Homo sapiens: one gene and its partners. The protein of the gene in region 3 purifies or fractionates together with the protein of the main gene of each other region. This does not show direct contact. Each region holds a gene or a part of one and is shown on either strand. Other genes may lie near its edges.

Region 1 (3,754 bases), on a different chromosome or scaffold from region 3:
CTTATGCCTGTAATCCCAGCACTTTGGGAGGCTTAGGCGGGCGGATCACCTGAGGTCAGGAGTTTGAGACCAGCCTGGCCAACATGGTGAAACCCCGTCTCTACTAAAAAAAAATAATAATAATACAAAAATTAGCCGGGCATGGTGGCAGGTGCCTGATATCTCAGCTACTCGGGAGGCTGAGGCAGGAGAATCGCTTGAACCCAGGAGGCGGAGGTTCCAGTGAGCCGAGATCGCGCCACTGTACTCCAGCCTGGGGAACAAGAGCGAGACTTCGTCTCAAAAAAAAAAAAAAAAAAAAAAAAAGAATACCTTAAGTTTATAACCTAAGATGGCCTTACATTTTAAGTCAGTGTTCTTAAAAATCACTTTAATACACAATTTAGAAATATCTTTCCTGGGAAATGAGAATTTCACTTAAAGAAAAAAAACACAGTTCTTTTTTTTTGGTACATACGATTCTTGCTGCAGACATGTTGCATGGCCCAAACTGCCCATAGCTGAACTCCTGGTGTTGTGAAACAGCCAAGTAATGGGAAAAATGGATTAAAGGACCTAAAGGTTCAAAAGAAAAGAATCAAAGTTACATCCCATATTTAGCGTAATTTCCTAAAGCAGTGATTCCTAAACTTTTCATTTTCAAAATTTTATCCTATTATATTTAGACTAATATAAATGAGCTATAGAATATCATTTCTTTGTCTTAACCATTTCAGAGAAGACTGCATTCAGACATGACTCAGTACAGAAGATGGAAGGTGATTAGAACATGGTAGTGAAAGAGAAAAAATTTTTCCAAAAGCACTTTTTAGTCTTAAAGATACACATTTGAAGATAAGTAGATCTTGGTTTGGAAACTAAGAAATAGAGAAATTAGGTGATAACTAACTAGTAGAACACTATGAAAAAGATGTATAATTATCCCTTCTATTTTCTACTGGTCTGAATAAAAATAGGTGGAACATAAGTTGGAGAAATAAAAAAAATGTTGGCAACATCAGCATTTATGAACCAAACAAAAAAAATAAGTTGAATAAAAATTAAATACTTCAGGTAATTAGTAATTTAATTATCAAGTTATCTAATTACAAACAGAGTTAGGCATCCAGTATGCACTTCTTAATTTTTGTTATTTATTTATTTATTTATTTTGATACGGAGTCTCGCTCTGTCGCCCAGGCTGGAGTGCAGTGGCGCGATCTCAGCTCACTGCAACCTCCGCCTCCTGGGTTCACGGCATTCTCCTGCCTCAGCCTCCCAAGTAGCTGGGACTACAGGCGCCTGCCACCACGCCCGGCTAATTTTTTTGTATTTTTAGTAGAGACGGGGTTTCACCACGTTAGCCAGGATAGTCTCGATCTCCTGACCTCGTGATCTGCCCGCCTCGGCCTCCCAAAGTGCTGGGATTACAGGCATGAGCCACCATGCCCGGCCTATTTATTTATTTTTACATTTATTTATTTATTTGAGACAGGGTCTCACTCTGTTGCTCAGGCTGGAGTGCAGTAAGGCGATCTCAACTCATTGCAGCCTCAACCTTCCAGGCTCAAGCGATTCTCCCACCTTAGCCTCCCAAGCAGCTTGGACTACAGGGATGTGCCACCACAACTGGCTAATTTTTTATTTTTTGTAGAGACGGGGTCTCACTATGTTGCTCAGGCTGAGCTCAAGTGATCTACCTGCCTTGGCCTTCCGAAGTGGTGGGACTACAGGTGTATGCCATCATGCCCAGGTTTTTTTATTTTTTAGTAGAGATGAGGTCTCACTATGATGCCTAGGCTAGTCTGCAACTCCTGAACTCAAGTGATACTACCACCTCAGTCTCTCAAAGTGTTGGGATTATAGGTGTGAGCCACCATGCCAGGCCCAGTATGCCCTTTAATAAATTATTACAAACTGTTTCCCCAACCAAATCTAGTGTTATTCCTTTTTTGAGAGTCTCATTCTGTCACCCAGGCTGCAGTGCAGTGGCGCCATCTCAGCTCACTGCAACCTCCACCTCCCAAGTTCAAGCGATTCTCATGCCTCAGCCTCCCAAGTAGCTGGAATTACAGGTGTGCACCACCATGCCCCACTAACTTTGTTCTTTCAGTAGAGACAGGGGTTTCAACATGTTGGCCAAGCTGGTCTCGAACTCCTGGATTGAAGTGATCCACCCACCTCAGCCTCCCAAAGTGCTGGGATTATAGGCATGAGCCACAATGCCTGGCCCAAATCTGGTGCTACTTCTAATTCCTTCAATGTGTCATTTTATTTTAGACCTTCCTACATTAATACGATGCTTTTTCTTCCTAAAAATCTCCTGCCTCTCCTTATCTTTCAACACTCAGGTCACAACTCACTTCCTCTGAAAGGTGTGTGTGTGTGTGTGTGTGTGTGTGTATTTACATTTGGAGTCTTGCTCTGTCACTCAGGCTGGAATGCAGTGATGCAATCATAACTCACTGCAGCCTCAAACTCCTGGGCTCAAGTGATCCTCCCAGGACTACAGGTATGTGCTACCCCACTGGGCTTCACCTTTAATTTCATAACATTCTATGGACATTTGGCATAACGGTATTTTATCTGATCCACATTCACTCTCCCTCACAAGGATATAAAATTCTTGTGTGCAGACACCATGTCTTTGTTCATTTTTGTATTTCAAGAGCATAGAACAAATTCCTAGCACTTGTCTTCAACAAATGTGAAATGAAGGAAACATGAAGAGTGATAGGTGGTAGAAAAAAGTCAAAATACTTTGCTTCTTTTAAAGCCAATACTTTTGGCTGGGTGTGGTGGCTCACGCCTGTAATCCCAGCACTTAGGGGGGCCCAGGCAGGCAGATCACCTGAGGTCAGGAGTTCAAGACCAGCCTGGCCAACATGGTGAAACCTCGTCTCTACTAAAAATACAAAAATTAGCGGGGCGTGGTCGTGGGCGCCTATAATCCCAGCTACTCGGGAGGCTGAGGCAGGGGAATTGCTTCAACCTGGGAGGTGGAGGTTGCAGTGAGCCAAGATCATGCACTGCACTCCAGCCATGGCGACGGAGTGAAACTCTGTCTCAAAATAAATAAATAAATAACCAATATTGAGGTGCCTGAGGGAAAAATTATGCATCTAGTAGGAATGACTCTTAGGAATGATCTCTAGACTAGGTTGCTGGTTTACTGTTAATTATGATACTAATTACCTGTATGCTACCATCTCACACTCTGGAGTTGGCCATTTCAAAATAGCTGAATGCTGGAAGACAAAAGACACACAAGAAAGGATTACAATATTTATTTAGCACTGCATTATTTACTACATTATGAGGCTTTGATAGTTTAACCACTATGAATGTCTTTTGTTGGTATGGAATGACCCTACCAAATCATCCAGCAGAGAATTCCTCTGGCTACGACTCAATGTCCAAGCTTGTTCACCTCTGGATATTAAATGGGCAATAATTCCAGCTGCAAAGTAACTGACTTCCACTTCCACACTGTGTAGGAGACTACTGATGTGGTCTATAAAATCTTTCCACATTAATTCAGAATGTAATTCTTGTACTTCAGCTATATTGTTCTGGAAAAAAAAAAGAAAATATAAAAATTAATGTAATATGTATAGTAAATGGTTAAGATAACTGTTTTTAGGCCCTGGATAACAGGCAATTCAGGAAGGTGAAAGAAAAGTATTTCCCTGAGAGAAAGTATTCAAATGAGGGCAGTTTACAGACTGCAATGAAGGTAAGAGTAAGCCAAAGACAAAGTAGCAGTTTTGTTGAA
Region 2 (3,754 bases), on a different chromosome or scaffold from region 3:
CAGGGAAGGGGAAGTAAGTGGGAATCAAAGTACTAGGCAACTTTTCATTCCTGGACTGCCGCATCCCTACTAACATTTCCATCACCTGTAAAATGGGAGCAGAACGTCTCTTCTATTGCCAATTTCATTAAAACAGCACATGTATTCATGAGCAGATTAAATTCACTAAACAAATGAAAGAAAGGGGAAATAAATGTGGTGTGGTAACACCATCTTAAAAACCCGAGAGCCATGTTCTCAAAACCACAGACCAAGTTCTGACCCATGTTATACAAATATCAATCCCAATATCGTTACACTCTGGCTCCCATCAAAATCCTACCCAATCCCCAAATCTGGCTATACTTTTATCAGAAAAGAAAAAAACTTGGGTGGGGTGAGAGCAGAAAAGACACACACACACAACAAAATATCTTTCACAATGTCAAAAAAAAACCTGTTTATATGCCAGGCGAGGTGGCTCATGCCTGTAATCCCAGCACTTTGGGAGGCCGAGGTAGACAGATCACCTGAGGTCAGGAGTTCGAGACCAGCCTGATCAACATGGAGAAACCCTGTCTCTATTAAAAATAGAAAATTAGCCGGGCACGATGGCGCATGCCTGTAATCCCTGCTAATCGGGAAGGTGAGGCAGGAGAATCGCTTGAACCTGGGAGGCGGAGGTTGCTGTGAGTCGAGATGGCACCATTGCACTCCAGCCTGAGAAACAAGAGCGAAACTCCGCCTCAAAAAAAAAAAAAAAAAAAAAAAACTGTTTATAAACACATCACTTTCTTCTCTTAGCAAATATGTAAGTTTCATTCTCCTCCTGTCTACTTAGTTTGGGTTAACTTAACCCCCGCCCCATCTCTCAGATCATGTTTTTATTTAGGTTTATTGAGGTGGGAAAGCCAACTGAACTTTAAACGAAGCCAGGCATTTAAGAATATTAGAAAACTGATCTTACATATATAGGTAGTCAAATATTTTTAAAAGACATCAAATGGCATTCTAATTCCTCCGGTGCAAAGAAAGCCCCAGCCTCACACGTGTTAGCATTTCCTGATTCCTGGCTTTTCCCACTCAGAGCCCCATTCCAGGGGCTCATATGTCAAGTCATTCTCTCCTGACTTCTGAAGCAGGGATTTTCAAAGCCAGGATTCCGGGACCACCTGAATGAGAACCCCCTGGGGTACAGCTGCCCACGCACCATCTTATCGGAAATCCCAGGGAATGGAGCCCAAGGCTTATGCACAAAGCCCCTAGACGATCCGAGAGATAACACTAACCAGTCTGTAACCTCTAAAGGCAAATTTTCCAGGACAAAGAAAAACAAGCAATAAGAGAGTGACAATAATTCCACATGGGAAGAGACACACGGGTCTCGGAGATCAACACCAAACCACCCCTTCTTCGGACAGATACGGAAACTTAGGCTGGGAGAATGAAACAGGCAAGGGCACTAAAAACAGGTGCGGAGCCAAAGCCAATCTCAAATTTCCACGGCCCCATCTCCTGCCAATAAAGAGGTGAATGGAGACATTCTGAGTGGGAAAGATAAGAAAGGTAGGCCTTCGGCAGGGAGCCCCGGGCCCACTTGGACGTCCCGCTTTGGAGACACTAGTGAGGATGTGTGGGTCCCCAGAACACTGCTGGGAAGGCGCCGAGGCCGCCGGCAGGAGGAGGCCCAGGAAGCGCCCTGAGCCCCCCGCCCAGCTCCAGGGCCGGGCGGCCCTCACCGCCCCTACCTTCGGCCTCCGGCAGCCGAGTGGCAGACACAACTCCCACAATTCCAGGCGGCCGCGGCGGCGACCAGCTCCCCCTGCGCAAACGCGGCGGCGACCGTCTGAGCCGGTGAGCTGGCAGCTGTCACGCCGCTCGCGGCCTCGCCCAATCGCGGGCCGCCAGACCAGCGCGCGGCGCCCCCCGCCCCGCACCGAGGTGGGAGCCCCGCCCCTAGCCCCGCCCTCTGCAGACTCTTGCACGAGCTGCCCCCGTGCCCCTCCCCTTGGGGGGAGGGAGGGCTGAAGAGATAGCTTCACGCCTGCTTTTGCTTCCAGGCTGGAACTGCGAAGTTTCCTGTCTGATTTTCCAACAATGTAATTTCTTTCTAGCGGAAGGACCCTCAGAAAGCAATCAGAGGGGTGCGGAGTAAAAATAAATCAAGTTCTTGTGACTCAGTTTGGGACAGAAGCCGAGAGTCTCCAGCAATAAAATTTCTCGCAAATTCATGCAAAATAGGACACCTTTAAGCCACTCACTTTATATACTTGTGTAGATTTTTTACAAGGACCAGTTATTTTAAAAATAGCATCAGGTGGCCGGGCGCGGTGGCTCACACCTGTAATCCCAGCACTTTGGGAGGCCCAGGCAGGCAGATCACTTGAGGCCAGGAGTTCAAGACCAGCCTGACCAACATGGTGAAACCCCCGTCTCTACTAAATATACAAAAATTAGCCAGGCGTGGTGGCGAGCGCCTGTAATCCCAGCTACTTGGGAGGCTGAGGCAGGAGAATCGCTTGAACCCACCAGGCAGAGGTTGCAGTGAGCTAAAATCGTGCCACTACACTCCAGCCTGGGTGACAGAGTGAAACTCTGTCTCAAAATCTAATAAAATAAAATAAAGGTCACTTGCGATTCTGATTTTTTTTTAAGACAGAATCTGTGTCCCCCAGGCTGGAGTGCAGTGGCAGGATCTTGGCTTATCACAGCCTTGACCTCCCAGGCTCAAGGGATCCTCCCCCTCAGCCTCCATCCAGTAGCTGGGACCACAGGCGCGTGCCACCGTTGCCAGGCTAATTTTTTTTTTTTTTTTTTTTTTACAGACAGGGTCTCGCTATGTTGCCCAGGCTGGTGTCAACGCAGTTGTAATTCTGCTGTACCAGTGAATATCATGCTTTCTGTACCAGGTGCTGCATATATATTTTATTTACTTATAACGTCCTCTGAGCAGAATGGTCATCCCCTTTTTATAAATGGAGAAGCTGACGCTCAAAGAGGCTAAAGGAGTTATACAAAGTCATACAGTCAGGAAGTGGTAGAACTGGGAGTTAAAGCTAGATTTAAGTGTCTCCAATGTCCTGTTCTCTTTCCACTATTCCACTTTTAGACCTTCCCCTTGCCTAGACATGCTTAACCTGATGAATAAAAATGACTGCCCCCTCCTGCCCTCAGATCCCCCACATAGTGATTCCTGGTCATTCATGAGTGGAGAAAACAGTAATCCAGACAGTTACCTCCCCAAATGGCAAGTATTTCCCAATAGCAAACAACCTATTTCTGGACTTCCCTTCCCTTTTCCATGTACTCTATGAGCTTCTAGCAGACAATTTACCTTCTTGATTATGTTTACTTCAAGCAGATGGGAAACTGACTTCATAGCCACTGAGCAAACCTTGGTTACTAGTATGGGAAGGGAGAACAAGCCCCTGGGCAGTAGTTCAGTGAATAGTGCCAGTTTATGAGAAAGGTCTAGATAAAACACCTAGGGCCTGATTTGGAAAGAGAACAGCTCACTTTTCCCCTGGAACACCCAGGAGACCAGTGAGAAGAACTGGGCCTAAGAATAATTCTAGCTTATGTCACTGCCTAGTACCATAAGTACAGATAATAAATATTCAACAAATATTTCATGAGTGATAAATTAGAGAATGAACATATAAATTATAATAAGACTGGCACGAGTTATAAAAAAGATGTTAATAAAGTGCTACAAGAGTAAGAGCCTTAAAAATAGAATAAGCTCAAATCTTATAATAGCATGAATAAATGAATG
Region 3 (3,754 bases):
GGTCCCATGAGAACTCATTCATACAGTTCTCTGCTAATTGATTCACTTGATCAGCCGTAGATATTCATGCAACTTTTCACATACAAGCACTCAGCCAGGCCCTGAGGATGCTCTGGTGGATAGAAATTACATGGTTCCCACCCCCAACAGAGTATAAGTTAGTGAGGTCCACAGATCATTACAGAGTAAAACAATCAATATGTAGTTCCATGTTTGGTGGATACTTTGAAGCAAACAAACAGGGTGCAGTGATAGAAAAGACAGAAGAAAGACCTGCGCAGGTAAGGTTAGGTGGTCACCGAAGCTTCTCTGAAAATGTGACATCTCTGAGGAAGGTGGAACATTAATCATCTCTAGCAGTGCATAGGCCCTCTCTATGGCATTGTCAACTAAGCACTAATAATAGTCAGGGGACAACATGCAGCGATAGCCAAGAGCATGGATCTTGGAGCCAAAGAGATCAGGTTTTAATCTCAGCTCTGCAGCGCTAGCCATGCGCTAGCTTCATGCAGGCTTCCTTCATTTTAATTCTCAGTGACCTCATCCAAACGTGAGGATTATCATAAAACCAACCTCATGAGGCTGGTGTGAGGATCAAGTGCTGCCACTTAGAGCAATGCCTGGCAGTCGTTTACTTAATAGGCATTTGTGTCTACAGAAGATATTTCGAAAGAGCTGTTATGAAAACAAGGCCACTTGTATCTGAAGTATAGAAAAACATTGAAAAATACTTGGGAACTGAGAAAAGCCTGTTTTAGGTTGAAAAATAGAAAAAAAGTCAAAAGAAAAATGCCACTATTACCACCAATAACACCAACAATAATACCATCACTACCACCAACAATAATGCCAGCAACAATACCACCACCATCATCACATCACCACCACAATCACCATCATCACCAACACCACCACCAGCACCACCACCATCACCATCATCACCATCACCACTACCACCACCACCATCACCATCACCACCACCACCATCACCATCACCACCATCACCACCACCACCACCACCACCACCACCAAATACCACCACCACCACCACCACCACCACTACCACCACCATCACCATCACCATCACCATCATCACCATCACCACTACCACCACCACCACCACCACCATCACCACCATCACCACCATCACCATCACCACCACCACCATCATCACCATCACCACCACCACCACCATCACCACCACCACCACCACCACCACCAAATACCACCACCACCATCACCACCAAATACCACCACCACCACCACCATGTCCACCACCACTACCACCACCATCACCATCACCATCACCACCACCACCACCATCACCATCACCATCATCACCATCACCTCCACCACCACCACCACTATCACCACCATCACCATCAACACCATCACCACCATCATCACCACCACCACCACCACCAACACCACCACCACCACTACCAAATAAAACTTTTCTGGTCTCTTGTATGGCAGGCACTGTGCCTTTTTTCCACATATATTACCTCATCAATGAATTTTCTCATCAGTCCCATGATATAGCTGGAATTAATACATTCATTTAACAGATCAGGAAGCAGTGGCGTTGAGAAAGAAAATAGGTTGCCCCAGGTCATACAAATAGTAACGAGCACAGCCAGAATTGACTCCCACTCTAAATGACTTTTAACCTTCTTCTTCCCACTGTGGCCAGTGGAGAGATGATTGCAGCTGTTTAAACACAGTACAAAATGGAAGTTTTGTGGCTAAAGATTAAGAGCAACCACTTGTGGACTATGGCGGTGTTTCCAAGTCAGTGTTCCCAGAAACATTTCACTGGAAGGTAGTAATGAGGGTGTACTAATTATATGTATGATTTCAAAAAACTTAAGGAAAATTAGATATTTAAGTGACATGAGGGTTCTTAGGTTATTATTTAATAGATGTAGTTTAGAGTCAAATTATGTCAATATTTTGGAAAAAAAGTGTTCAAAAATCTCTTGGGATTGACAAGATTCGGTGTCCTAGAGTAGTTCTGGCCAATTCTGCCTATTTTTTTGTTGGAATCTTTGTAGAGGTTGAATGATAAAACATTTGCAGTAGGTCTTTAACGTCATCAATAGGTTCTTGGAAACTAAACAAAATGATGTACAGCATATCCTCATATAATACTGTTTTCTTCAACATTGTTTCATTATAAAATTGAGAGAAAAATTGTTTTTTTTTTTATATCATTTTACTTAAAGTCTCCATTCCCAAGAATGTATATAGCCGTGAAGCGAGGAGTTACTGTAACTGATTGTGGAGTGGGGTTGGAAAGGATAAGAGTTTGCCAGAGGCTTCTGTCTCCTCTTAATTTCTAACATTCTCTGTGTTCTCATGTTCCCCTTTGCAGAGGTTGAACATGCTGTGTCTGAATTCATCAAATATGAGATCTCCTTCAATGTATATATGTTCCATGGTGGAACCAACTTTGGTTTCATGAACGGGGCCACATATTTCGGGAAGCACTCGGGCATTGTCACCAGCTATGGCAAGTGTCGCTGGTGTAGTAGCCTCTCCAGCATGGGCGGTGCTGGGGCTTTACAGAGGAGGCTCCGGAAGCCTGTTCTGGCACCACTGGGTTCTTGACCTATAATCTATGCTGAGTACTGAAGATTTTCCTATCTACTTTCCTTCCTTCTGTATGTTCATAATGCCCCAACAGGCTGTCATTGCAGTAGACAGGGCTTTCCGGGACTTAGAGCTCCGCTTCACACATCTGGTATACTGCCCTGTTGGCTTGAACCTCTGAAGAGAGGCAGGGTAGGAACGGTGACTGCTGTAAAGGCACAGACCTGCACGGCCGGGCGATACAGACTGAGCAAAGAAAAGAGTACCCGTTGAAGGGGTGTCCACTCTTTTGGCTTCCCTGGGCCACACTGGAAGAAGAAGAATTGTCTTGGGCCACACATGAAATACACTAACACTAATGATAGCTGATGAGCTTAAAAAAAAAACACAAAATGTTTTAAGAAAGTTTATGAATTTGTGTTGGGCTGCATTCAAAGCCATCCTGGGCCGCCTGTAGCCCATGAGCTGTGGGTTGAACAAGTTTGCATTAGAAAGTGAAGAAGTGGGGGCAAGCCCAGTGTCATGGCTTGACACTGGAAGCCAGTGGAAGGTGCCCAGGAAGAGTTGTGGGGAATGTCCTTAGACTGGCATCACACACCCACGTGGGATGGAAGGTGTCTTCCTTTTGTCTCACTCACGGTGGCCCTGGCCATCTCCTGCCAGCGGTGCTGAAACAGGGCCTCCTGCAGAGACTGCATGGCTGGTGACTGGCCCTGGTGTCTTGCAGACTATGATGCAGTGCTCACGGAGGCTGGAGATTACACAGAAAAATATCTGAAGCTTCAAAAACTCTTTCAATCTGTCTCAGGTACTCAGCACCCATTTAACTTACGGGCCAGCCCTCCTCATGTGGAGTCTCTGTTCTGTGGAAAAGTGAGGAAGGCGTGGGTCTCCCTTGTGGGCAGCAGTTACACCAAGCTCCTGAGAACAAGGGCAACCTTAACTTCGAACCCTGGGGTTAAAATCTGTGTGATTTTTTAAAATCAGGGTTTCTAAGCATTTTATAAGCCTCAGTTTCTTCACTGAAGCATAAAGATAGTAACCTTGGTCTCCTGTGATGACTGCGAAGATTGAGTTACTCTTTGTAAAGCTCTTATACCATGGATGACATAGTAACCCCCAATATGAAAGGAAAAGCCATGCTGGATAGGCATGGGGGGCT

The links.
Region 1: the proteins of GLB1L3 (region 3) and ZYG11B purify together in Homo sapiens (affinity purification with mass spectrometry; 3 studies listed by BioGRID and IntAct, with this or other methods). This does not show direct contact.
Region 2: the proteins of GLB1L3 (region 3) and SIL1 purify together in Homo sapiens (affinity purification with mass spectrometry; 3 studies listed by BioGRID and IntAct, with this or other methods). This does not show direct contact.

What each region holds. Positions count from the first base shown.
Region 1 is NC_000001.11:52,813,333-52,817,086, reverse strand, and holds part of ZYG11B (protein zyg-11 homolog B), read right to left. Parts: intron 3,552-3,754; coding exon 3,354-3,551; intron 3,228-3,353; coding exon 3,175-3,227; intron 556-3,174; coding exon 458-555; intron 1-457. UniProt on the Homo sapiens protein: Serves as substrate adapter subunit in the E3 ubiquitin ligase complex ZYG11B-CUL2-Elongin BC. Acts to target substrates bearing N-terminal degrons for proteasomal degradation with the first four residues of substrates being the key recognition elements.
Region 2 is NC_000005.10:139,196,542-139,200,295, forward strand, and holds the start of SIL1 (nucleotide exchange factor SIL1 precursor), read right to left. Parts: upstream 1,828-3,754; 5' UTR 1,728-1,827; intron 1-1,727.
Region 3 is NC_000011.10:134,307,252-134,311,005, forward strand, and holds part of GLB1L3 (beta-galactosidase-1-like protein 3), read left to right. Parts: intron 1-2,374; coding exon 2,375-2,512; intron 2,513-3,319; coding exon 3,320-3,400; intron 3,401-3,754.